3 linked regions of the Homo sapiens genome follow. The protein of the gene in region 3 interacts with the protein of the main gene of each other region in a pairwise test. Each region holds a gene or a part of one and is shown on either strand. Other genes may lie near its edges.

What was found.
Region 1: the proteins of KCTD9 (region 3) and MIIP interact in binary tests that used the Homo sapiens proteins (3 or more experiments, as listed by UniProt).
Region 2: the proteins of KCTD9 (region 3) and IGFN1 interact in binary tests that used the Homo sapiens proteins (3 or more experiments, as listed by UniProt).

The regions. Positions count from the first base shown.
Region 1 is NC_000001.11:12,017,912-12,021,661, reverse strand, and holds the start of MIIP (migration and invasion-inhibitory protein), read right to left. Parts: upstream 2,165-3,750; 5' UTR 2,110-2,164; exon of another isoform or gene 1,688-2,109; intron 18-1,687; 5' UTR 1-17.
Region 2 is NC_000001.11:201,197,229-201,200,878, reverse strand, and holds part of IGFN1 (immunoglobulin-like and fibronectin type III domain-containing protein 1), read right to left. Parts: coding exon 3,562-3,650; intron 1,546-3,561; coding exon 1,501-1,545; intron 1,271-1,500; coding exon 1,225-1,270; intron 643-1,224; coding exon 468-642; intron 1-467.
Region 3 is NC_000008.11:25,430,791-25,434,440, forward strand, and holds part of KCTD9 (BTB/POZ domain-containing protein KCTD9), read right to left. Parts: intron 2,646-3,650; coding exon 2,540-2,645; intron 1,864-2,539; coding exon of another isoform or gene 1,848-1,863; coding exon 1,714-1,847; intron 1-1,713. UniProt on the Homo sapiens protein: Substrate-specific adapter of a BCR (BTB-CUL3-RBX1) E3 ubiquitin-protein ligase complex, which mediates the ubiquitination of target proteins, leading to their degradation by the proteasome.

The sequences.
Region 1 (3,750 bases), on a different chromosome or scaffold from region 3:
AGGCCCAGCTCTTCTACCTGAAGTCAAGACAGCAGGACACGGGGCTCAGTAGGGTGCCCTGTGGTGCCAGAGACCCCCATTCGACACTCTTTAACTGTACTGCCTCAGGCAAGTTATTTAACTTCTCTGTGCCTCAGTTTCCTCATCTGCTGGACGACAACAGTATCTACCTCATACGATTGTTGTTAGAATTAAAGAAAGCATGTTAAGCCTGGACAACATTTGTAGAAACATTTTTTTTTGTTTTGTTTTTTTGTTTTTTTTTTTTGAGATGGAGTCTTGCTCTGTCGCCCAGGCTGGAGTGCAGTGGCGCAATCTCGGCTCACTGCAAGCTCCGCCTCCCGGGTTCACGCCATTCTCCTGCCTCAGCCTCCTGAGTAGCTGGGACTACAGGCGCCTGCCACCACGCCCAGCTAATTTTTTGTATTTTTAGTAGAGACGGGGTTTCACCGTGTTAGCCAGGATGGTCTCGATCTCATGACCTTGTGATCCGCCTGCCTCGGTCTCCCAAAGTGCTGGGATTACAGGCATGAGCTACAGTGCCTGGCCAAAAAAAAATTTAATTAGCTGGCCATGGTGGCACTTGTCTGTGGCCCCAGCTACTCAGGAGGATAGCTTTAGCCCAGGAGACCCAGGCTGCAGTGAGCCATGGTTGCATCACTGTAAAAAAAACAAAAAACAGGCCAAGTGGCTCACGTCTGTAATCCCAGCACTTTGGGAGGCTGAGGCAGGAGGATCACCTGAGGTCAGGAGTTTGAGATGAGCCTAGCCAACGTGGCGAGAGACCTCGTCGCTACTAAAAATGCAAAAATTAGCCGGGCGTGGTGGCACGCGCCTGTAATCCCAGCTACTCGGGAGGCTGAGGCAGGAGAATCACCTGAACCCGGGAGGCAGAGGTTGCGGTGAGCCGAGATCGCACCATTGCGCTCCAGCCTGGGCGACAGGGTGAGACTCCGTCTCAAAAACAGCAACAACAACAAACAATTAGCCGGGTGTGGTGGTGGGCGCCAGTAATCCCAGCTACTCAGGAGGCTGCTGAGGCAGGAGAATCGCTTGAACCTGGGAGGCGGAGGTTGTAGTGAGTGGAGATCACACTACTGCACTCCAGCCTGGGTGACAGAGCAAGACTGTCACACACACACACAAAATACAAAAAACAAAGCACTCAGTACAGTGCTTACTTAATACAGTGCTTACAGTGGTATACAGTAAGCATTCAATAAACGTCTATTATTACCAAAATGGCTGGGGCAAGGGCATGCTTCCTTTTTTTCTTGGCTCACTGCAACCTCCGCCTCCTGGGCAGTGGTTTGGACAAGCTTGCTTTATAACTGGTGAGTCCAACACAAATCAGGCTTCAAAAGGGATTCTTCCTCCTTTCCTGCCCTCCCTTCCTCCTTCACTTTCTTTTTACATATGAAGAAACCAAAGCTCAGGGAAGTTAAGCAACTTGCCCCAAGTCACACAGCTAGCAAGAGGCTAGATCTGAACCAAAATTTGACTCCAGGGTCCATGAGTTCAGGGTTCTTGGAAAGCCTTTCCCTGGAAGTGTGGGGGAGCCTGGGAAAACTCCGCCTCCTCCTCCCAGCCCTTGCCCCCCACCTCCAAGGATCCTCAGGATCGGGTGCAAGGTCTGGAGCACAGAGTAGCCGACTACCCCGGAACCTCCCCCACACACGTATATTACCCCGCAGGGCCGGGGGGCACGGAGATGCAGTCCAGAGGGGCCAACTGTTTGATCCGCAGGACAAAGATCCCGGCCCCCACCCCTAACTGGCCAAGTGGCTCTGGGCCACACCCCTATAGTCAGAGGGTCGCCGTTTTCGCACGGGGTCAAAGGGCACAGCAGGCCTTGCCCTCCCCTGGCCCCGGCCGCGCTTTGGAAAGGGAAAAGCTGAGCGGAGACACCGGGAAAGCGACGCTCCAGAAACACCGGGGCCGCAGAAGTAACAGAGGGCGAGCGGGCGGACGCCGAGGCGGGACCCCCGCAGAGGCAGATGCAGCCTACCCTTCTTTTCCACTGCGGCCCCCGAGCCCCTCGCGGGAATGCACGTGGGGCCTCCTGCCGAGCCCTTCCGCCCCACCCCAGTCCTGCCGCCCAGCACTCACCCGGCAGAATCCCCTAGCATGCGCCGCCGTAGCAGCCGCAGCCGCCTGAGCCGTTCCAGGGGCCTCGGCCGGCCGTCTTGATTGGTCAGGTGAGGGGCAGGGCCGGGACGTCTGGTGAGCGTTACTCGGCGATCCGAAGTGTCAGTTTCAGCGTGGGGGCGGGACTAAGAGCGGAGCTACACAACCGATTGGTCAATTTTCGAGGCCGGTGCGGAGGTCGATTCCTGGAATGGGGCGGGCCCCGGAAGGGCGAGCTCCGATTGGTCAGCTGCGGGACTGGATACGCTGAGTTCAGCAGCGGCAGTTTCAGTCAGGCTGGGCGGCCTAGGCTCGGCGCAGGCGGCAGTCCGGAGCGGCGGGGTAGGTGGGGCAGGCGGCTGGCTACTCATTGTACTCATCGTTTCATACTTTTCTTTTTTTTTTTTTTTTTGGAGACGGAGTCTCACTCTGTTGCCCAGGCTGGAGTGCAGTGGCGCGATCTCGGCTCACCACAATCTCTGCCTCCCGAGTTCAAGCGATTGATTCTCCTGCCTCAGCCTCCCGAGTAGCTGGGACTACAGGCGAGCGCCACCATGCCCGGCTTTTTTTTTTTTTTTTTTTTTTTTTTTTTTTTTTTTTGTATTTTTAGTAGAGACAGGGTTTCACTATGTTGGCCAGGCTGGTCTCGAACTCCTGACCTCGTGATCCGCCCGCCCCGGCCTCCCAAAATGCTGGGATTACAGGCATGAGCCACTGCGCCCGGCCTGCTTTATACTTTCATTCAGGTTTTTAGCGAGTGCCCGCTTTGCGCCAGAAGATAAGGACTACACAGTAAACAAGAAAGTGTAGTATTGGGGCCGGCCGCGGTTGCTCACGCCAGTAAACCTAAAAATACAAAAATTAGCCGGGCGAGGTGGCCGGCGCCTGTAATCCCAGCTACTAGGGAGGCTGAGGCAGGAGAATCGCTTGAACCCAGCTACTAGGGAGGCAGAGATTGCAGTGAACCGAGATCGCGCCACTGCACTCCAGCCTGGATGACAGAGCAAGACGCAAGACTCCATCTCAAAAAAGAAAAAAAAAAAAAAGATACCCAGCCTGGGCAACATGGCAAAACCCCGTCTCTACAAAAAATGAGCCAGGCACGTACCTGTAGTCCAGCTACTCGGGAGGCTGAGATGGGAGGATCACCTGAGTCCAAGAGGCTGAGGCTGTGGTGAGCTTTGATTGCACCACTGCACTCCACCCTGACTGAGAGACCCTGTCTCAATAAATAAATTAATTTAAAAAAGAAAGAAAGTGTGGTATTGGCGTCCAGGTAGACAAATGGATCAATGCAACAGAATAGAGTTCCGATATGTGAGCAATTAATTTTTGACAAAAATGAAAGTGCAATTCAGTGGAGAAAGGATAATGCCTTCGGCCCGGGGCGGTGGCTCACGCCTGTAATCCCAGCGCTTTGGGATGCCGAGGTGGGCAGATGGCTTGAGGTAAGGAGTTACAGCCCAGCGACACCCAGCACCCCCCCCAAAAAAATTTATTTTATCAATAATGTGTGTGGAAACTTGGGAAAACAAGAAGAGATGGTGTCTTCAACAAATGTTGTAGGTATAATTGGATATCCACACACTCATCCTAAAAAAAAAAAAAAGAAACCCATATGCA
Region 2 (3,650 bases), on a different chromosome or scaffold from region 3:
GCCTGGGCGAAAGAGCAAGACTCCATCTTAAAAAAAAAAAAAAAAAGAAAGAAATAAACCAGGTACCTCCCCCCCGCAATCTGGTGACAATGATAATGATAGCAAAAATCAAGGCACTAAGCTAAGTACTTTAATTACATTCTCTCATTTATCCTCCCAATAACCCTACAAGGTAGGCATGACTATAATTCCCATTTTACAGATGAAGACACCAAGATACAGAGGCCCTAACCCTTCCAAAGCTCCAGAGTTTAGTAAGTATCAGAACCAGGTTGCAAAGGCAGGACACCAACCTGGGATCCCAGGGCCTTAGCCAGATACCCCACTGGGGACTAGATGGAGACAGGCCCCTTGATCATACTTGGTTTCCTAAGTTCTGCCTCCAAGCCCACCTCCAGGTGTGAGGCACCTATGGTCCAGGTGTGTGGGGTGGGCATGGAGTGAGGGGTGGGAATGGGGTGAGGCACCTGTGCCATCTTGTCCTCCTGTTCCTTCTTCATCTCCTGCAGCCTGCGCAACATGCCACGGTAGTCGACGATGCCATACTTCAAGCAGATCTTCTCGTAGTCCTTCCTGTCTGCTGTCATCAGCAGCTGCCATATCTGCTCAAGGTCCATCTTTTTCTTGGGGGCTGGTGGGGCCCTGGGGAGCAAGGCTAGCAGGTCAGAGGCCAGAGGAATCCCTGCTCCTCTGTTGGCCACCTGGCTCTGGTGTCCCAAGTAGTTCTGGGAAGCTGCTCTATCTGCACTCGAGGAAACGCAGAGCCTGGAATCTCTGGGACTGACCACTGTTGAGGCCAGAAGGATTCAGAGATGGGTGGGGCGAGCCTCAGCCTCACCCCACAACTTTCAGGAGAAATGCTCCTGACAACTTGTATTGTAGATTTCTAAGTAGGATGTCTGGGGAAAGTGGGTGTTGCATTGTTCTGTTGCTTAAAAAAAAAAAGTACATCATTGTTCTGGTGGACCACCACATTTTGCAAATGAGGAAATCAGAGGAGAGATGATTAACTCAAGGATATAGAGCTTTGAAATGGCAGAGCTGGAGCTCTGTCCCATTCCCATCCAGTTCAGTCCCCTTCCCATCCTCCCATCTGCTACTGGCAGTCTAGCTCCCTGCTGTGTTGGGTAGAGGTGGGGCTCAAGCCCAGCTTACTTATGGAAATAGCAGGGGGTGAATACTATGGGAGCCTCCAAAATCCCTCATGGACAGGCCCAAACCCACCTCTTTTTCAGCAACTTCCGGAAGTCCATCAGCTCCTTCCTGAGGTCTGAAAAAGGAGCAGGAATGAGGCCTCAGTCCCAGGTGGGATGACTGAGGGTTGATGCAGAGCTTTTCTGTGTTGTCCATGCTGACAACTGAGCCTTTGGAAGGGGCTCTCTTGAAGACTGGTGGTGATCCACAAGGTGTTCATGGTAGCTCAACCAGGCAGGGAACACCAGGAAAGGAGTAGCCTATCCCCCACAGGCCCCCAAGGAGGTTTCTGACAAATCTGCCTACCTTCCTGCGGTTCCCTGTGCCTCTTCCGATTCTTCCGAAAGCCAACTGCAACATCCAGGGAGGAGAGGAAGGAGTCGATGTGGACAAGCAGGGAGAGAAGCAAGACATGTTGATGGTCTTCCTGAGAAACTGATGGAGTCCCAGAGCCCTGCTCTCCCCACTGTCCTCTAAGGCGTGGACGATCCCAGCAAGAGGGATGGAGCAGGGTGGAGGGTCTGTCCATCATAAGCCTTTTTACCCTAGAGCCTTACCATGACCAAGGGGACCAACCTAAGCATCATCTCATGCAGGGGAGGCCCAGTCATGTGTCCGCAGGGGCCAGGGAGGTGGCATAAATGCGTGAAGCAGACACTGGCAACCACAACAAACTCAAGAGTATCTAAAGGGGCAGCTGCTCTTTCACTCCACCTGGGAGCTGCCATTTCAGGGTATAGGCCCAATATTGCCAAATAGGTCAGACATTGCTGTTTGGCTAATCCTGCAGCCATTTGTATTCTTCATCATCTGCTTCCACTAGAGAGGCTGAAAAAGCTAAACACTCACCTTCCCCAGCTTCCCTTGCAACTAGCAGTGCTCATGTGACACTGTCCTGACCAATGAGCTCCAGGAATTTCTGAGAAAGCCTTTGCTTCCTCTATAAAAAGGGTGGATGGACTGGTCGTGATGGTTCATGCCTGTAATCCCAGCATTTTGGGAGGCCGAGGGGGGAGGATAGCTTGAGCCCAGGAGTTCCAGACCAGCCTGGGCAACACAGGGAGACCCCGCCTCTACAAAAAAAATAAAAAAATTAGCTGGGTGTGATGACACATGCATGTAGTCCCAGCTACTTGGGAGGCTGAGGTGGGAGGATCACTTGGGCCTGGGAGGTCAAGGCTGCAGTGAGCCATAATCACACCACTGCACTCCAGCCTGGGCAACAGGTCTCAAAAAATAGAAAATAAAAGGCCAAGCACAGTGGCTCATGCCTGTAATCCCAGCACTTTGGGAGGCCGAGGCAGGTGGATCACCTGAGGTCAGGAGTTCGAGACCAGCCTGGCCAACGTGGTGAAACCCTGTCTCAACTAAAAATACAAAAATTAGCCAGGCATGGTGGTAAACGCGTGTAATCCCAGCTACTCAGGAGGCTGAGGCAGGAGAATTGCTTGAACCCGGGAGGCAGATGTTGCAGTGAGGTGAGATTGTGCCACTGTACTCCAGCCTACGCGATGGAGCAAGACTCCAGTCCATCTCAAAAATATAAAAATAAAAATAAGAGAGGCAGATGGACCTGGGCCACCTCTTCCACCTTCCTACCTTGAACATGGATTATGTTTGAATCTGCCACAGCCCTCTTATGGCCATGAGGTGATAAGCCAATCTGCTAAGGATGGCAGAGCAGTGGGAACGAAGGAATCAGCTCTCCGATGGCAGCCCTGAGCTGTGGTATGAGCCCTGGACGCCACTCGCAAAACTTCTTATGTGAAGGAATGAAATATCGTTATTTCTTAGGCTGCTCTTAGTAGGATTTTCTGTTAGTTGCAGGCAGATCAATTGTAAGCATAACCAATGGCGAGACTAGACCTGCTTCCTCAAGAGATATCTACCTTTTAATTACTACAGGTTGACAATTTTTAAAATTTCAAACACCACGCACACCAAAAAAAACATGTCTGAGAGAGAATTTGGCCTTTGTGTGACCTGTTTGTCAACTCTGGCATAGGCCTGTCCAAAATATCCTTTGCATGGTGGAGAAACTGAGACCCAGAGAGGAAAACGAAGCCCATTGAATGAGTTAGCAGAAGCTCTAGGACTAGAAGCCAGCTTTCAGGTCCTGCTCATTTACTGGGCCAAGAGAATATCCTTCAGAGTATCTGCCAAGGTGTGCCTTTTTAAACACATGCAGACTCAGTGTGCATGTGGATGAAGCCCGGGGCCCAGCACAAGGTGGGGCTGCAGCAGCGGCAGCAGCCTGGATGGGCCTCCCTTCCCTCCCCTCCCCTCCCTCACTAGCCACGGGGCATCTGATTCCTCTGTGGGTCTCTGCCCTGTGCACTGATGAGACAAACTCAGGGAAAAGCCCACCTTCGATGACAGTGAGTCTCACTGAGCAAGCGGCCTCTCCGTACGCATTTACTGCTGTGCAGCGGTACAGATCCGTGTCCTCGCCTGTC
Region 3 (3,650 bases):
GATTCCAACATAATAAATACACACACACACACACACACACACACACACACACAATTTTTTTTTTGAAACGGAGTTTTGCTCTTGTTGCCCAGGCTGGAGTGCAATCTCGGCTCACTGCAACCTCCACCTCCAGGATTCGAGCTATTCTCCTGCCTCAGCTTCCAGAGTAGCTGGGGTTACAGGCACTCACCACCACGCCTGGCTAATTTTTTCTATTTTTAGTAGAGACGGGGTTTCACCATGTTGGCCAGGCTGGTCTCAAACTCCTAACCTCAAGTGATTCGCCCACCTTGGCCTCCCAAAATGCTGGGGTTACAGGCATGAGCCACTGCGCCTGGCCCCAAAGTAATAAATATTATCAAAACAATTTTACTATGATCCAAGAACAACAACAACAAAAGGAATGAGATGGGGGGAAGACTTTTTTTTTAATCTGAAAAGATTTTACTTAATCAAATTGTGTAATAGATTTTTCCATTCCCTAGCCCTAGTATTTTTATAGCAAGGAACTGCCCTTCTTTTTAAAGCCCCAAAGGTACGTATATAATACAGTGAGTTTGACAGATGTACAGAACAGTGTAACCACCGCAATTTGAAGCTATTTCTTAATTTGTCTTGAGATCACGGAGCAATAAGATAGAGATTCCACTTAAGTCCCTGGATATGATAGGGGACAATGGTTAGAGAGAAGGGTGACTAAACGTAACCTGTTAGGAGAACAAATGTCAGCAGCTCTCCCCTCAATAGTCAACCTGATCAGTCTTTGCAATCAGAGAGAGGGAGGCTTTTGCTGCTAGGCCACACTGAGTACACAGTACTAAAACCAAGGAAAAAAATATAATCTTAGGTGAAAGTAATGTAACAAACAATAAATAATTGTGCTCGTGATAGGATTATACTTAGGCCAATTCTTTTTGCCTTGAAGTTGAAAGGGGCCTGCTACTCTGCTACCGAGAGCTATCAAGATATCTAGGCAAAAATATTATGAAAAAACATTAACAGCAAGCTAAATTTTGACATACCGTTCTCTGCTATCCAATTTATACCAGATTTCATAGCTACCAGCCACATGTGGCTACTTAAATTTAAATGAATTAAAATTAAATAAAATTTAAAAATCAATTTCTCATTTGCACTAGCCAAATCTCAAGCGCTCAATAGCTATATATGGGTGGTAGCTACTATACTGAACAGCACAGATATAGAACATGTCCCTCCTGCACAAAGTGCTATTGGATAGTGCTGATATAGACCTATCAACAGCTATCAAGTCTGCTAGCTAAACTGGCAAATTAAGAAGACATACAAATATAATTCTTTGAAAAAGATGACCAGGCAAAATTATAATCTCAAGCTGAAAACCAAAAAACATATGGTTCCAATTTCAAATAGACTTTTCCTGAACCTGATTTCAAACCTGGATATCATTTAAATTTCTCAAGTAGTTTAAGAAGTAATCTAGCCCATTTAATTCTATTCGGAATTAAATTTTATGGAAAATGCAATACATTAGATAACACATCTATCAAACTTATTTACTTGAGAAAAACTCAAGGAAAAGGAGAGAAATGAAATCAACTTAGACTGAATGTCAGATGAGTCTTCCAATCCAGTTTTACCAGCCAACTACTTTGTTTTGATTTCAATAAATTTTGCATGAGATGCTTAGTAAGTCTAGAGTAATAAAAATTCTTAAAGTGTTGGTGAACTCACCTCTAAATCAGTTCCTGCCAGAGTTGCTCCTCTGAGGTTACAGTTCTTCAACTTTGCATTTTTTAAGGTAGCCACTCTCAGGTTAATTCCTGTCATCTGACTTCCTTCCATATCCACACCTTTCAGATTAGCACCTACAGTGAACACATTCTGGGAGTAGTTTAACTTAAAAATATAGTTATCTACCTTCAACAGAACTGCAAGATGACTTAATGGAGGCCTCTTTTAACTTTTGGAAATTAATCTAAAATCTTGTCTCTCAACGAACTTATATATATAAACAGTTTACTGATGAAAGAATGCTTTCACAATACTTTTGAGGGAAGAAATTTAGTTCTGTCTTATGATAGTTAGCACTTTCATAATATGCCTCTACAGGTTTATGATAAGGGAGTGAAGTAGTCTCCTAAATATACAAGTAAACAAAGTGATCAGTCACAGATAGTAACAAATTAAGAAACAATACATTAAATCTAAAAATGATTTTTAAAAACTCCCTGGCTTTATGCAAATGAAATTTTTCCTTTTGGTCAGTGTAAGAATATTTTATTCCATTTGAAAGTTTAAGATGTTGATATTTAATTTTCCAACTAAAACCTTATTAAATATTTGAGGTTTTATTTTTTCTGAGTCCTCAATTTTGATTAGCATTTGACTGAAACCAAATGGAGGTTTCTTACCACTTTGGAAGTTCTCCAAATATGATGACAGAAGAAACCTATCCCCTACAGCTATCCTGTTTCACCCTTAACAATTATTTTCCAGGGCTTTTTTCCTTTACAGTCTGCTTCCTTCGTAGAATAGGTATTTACAGAAAGGATCTCACCTTCTAAATTGGCTTTAAGACCAGAAGGATCCTCAAAATTACACAGTTTCAGGGATGCTCCTTCTGCATTAGAACAGAGCATCTTGACTCCCTGGAGATTCGCACACTGCAAAGAAAAGAGAAAAGTCCTGGTTGTAAGGTTCATAATTTTGTTCAAATTAGCTCAAACAGTAAAAGAAAAAAAATAGAAAAGAGGGAAAGGCTCAACTCAAAACACTCATACTCAATTTTATTTTCTGTTTACAATAAAGGCTTTTCTAATTAAATACAGTAAGAACTGGGAACATTTGAAAGAAAAATTTTTTTAAAGAACTGTTTTTTAAAAAATAAATGCAAATTAACAATAGCATGCTCATTTTACATGAAACATAACGGTTTAGATAAAGAAGTTGGGTGAGTCAGAACTCTGACACCTCTATCTCTATTTTTATAAACATACCTATGCATGACAATGAAACAGTCAAAATGTATGGGTAAGGAAGGCATAGACTTGTTAGGGGTATGGATTTTCTTATTACTGTAGGAATCTTGATGTTCTAAGTGAAATTCTTGATATTCTAAGATGCTACTACTGCCCTCAAGTCAGAGGTCAGAATACAAAAGCCAGCATTTAAAGGCATTATTTAGCTAGAAAACACTAACAAGATGCTGGCTGGGTCTTTCTGCACCAACCATGGCTAAACATTATTAACCCTGAGCAGGCACATCACAATGCATAATGCAGGGCAGAGAGTAAAATGGTAGAAAATATATGTTTTAAGACTTTATTTTTTTGTTTTGTTTTGTTTGAGACAAAGTCTCACTCCGTCACCCAGGATGGAGTGCAGTGGTGCTGTCTCAGCTCACTGCAATCTCTGCCTCCCAAGTTCAAGTGATTCTCGTGCCTCAGCCTCCTGAGTAGCTTGAATTACAGGCATGCACCACCACGCCTGGCTAATTTTTGTATTTTTAGTAGAGACGGGGTTTCGCCATGTTGGCTAAGATGGTCTTGACCTCAAGTGATCTGCCTGCCTCTGCTCCCCAAAGTGCTGGGTTTACAGGCATGATCCACCACACGCAGCCAAGAGTTTTAAATTATGTTCATTTATCTCAAAGCGTTTTTGACAAACAT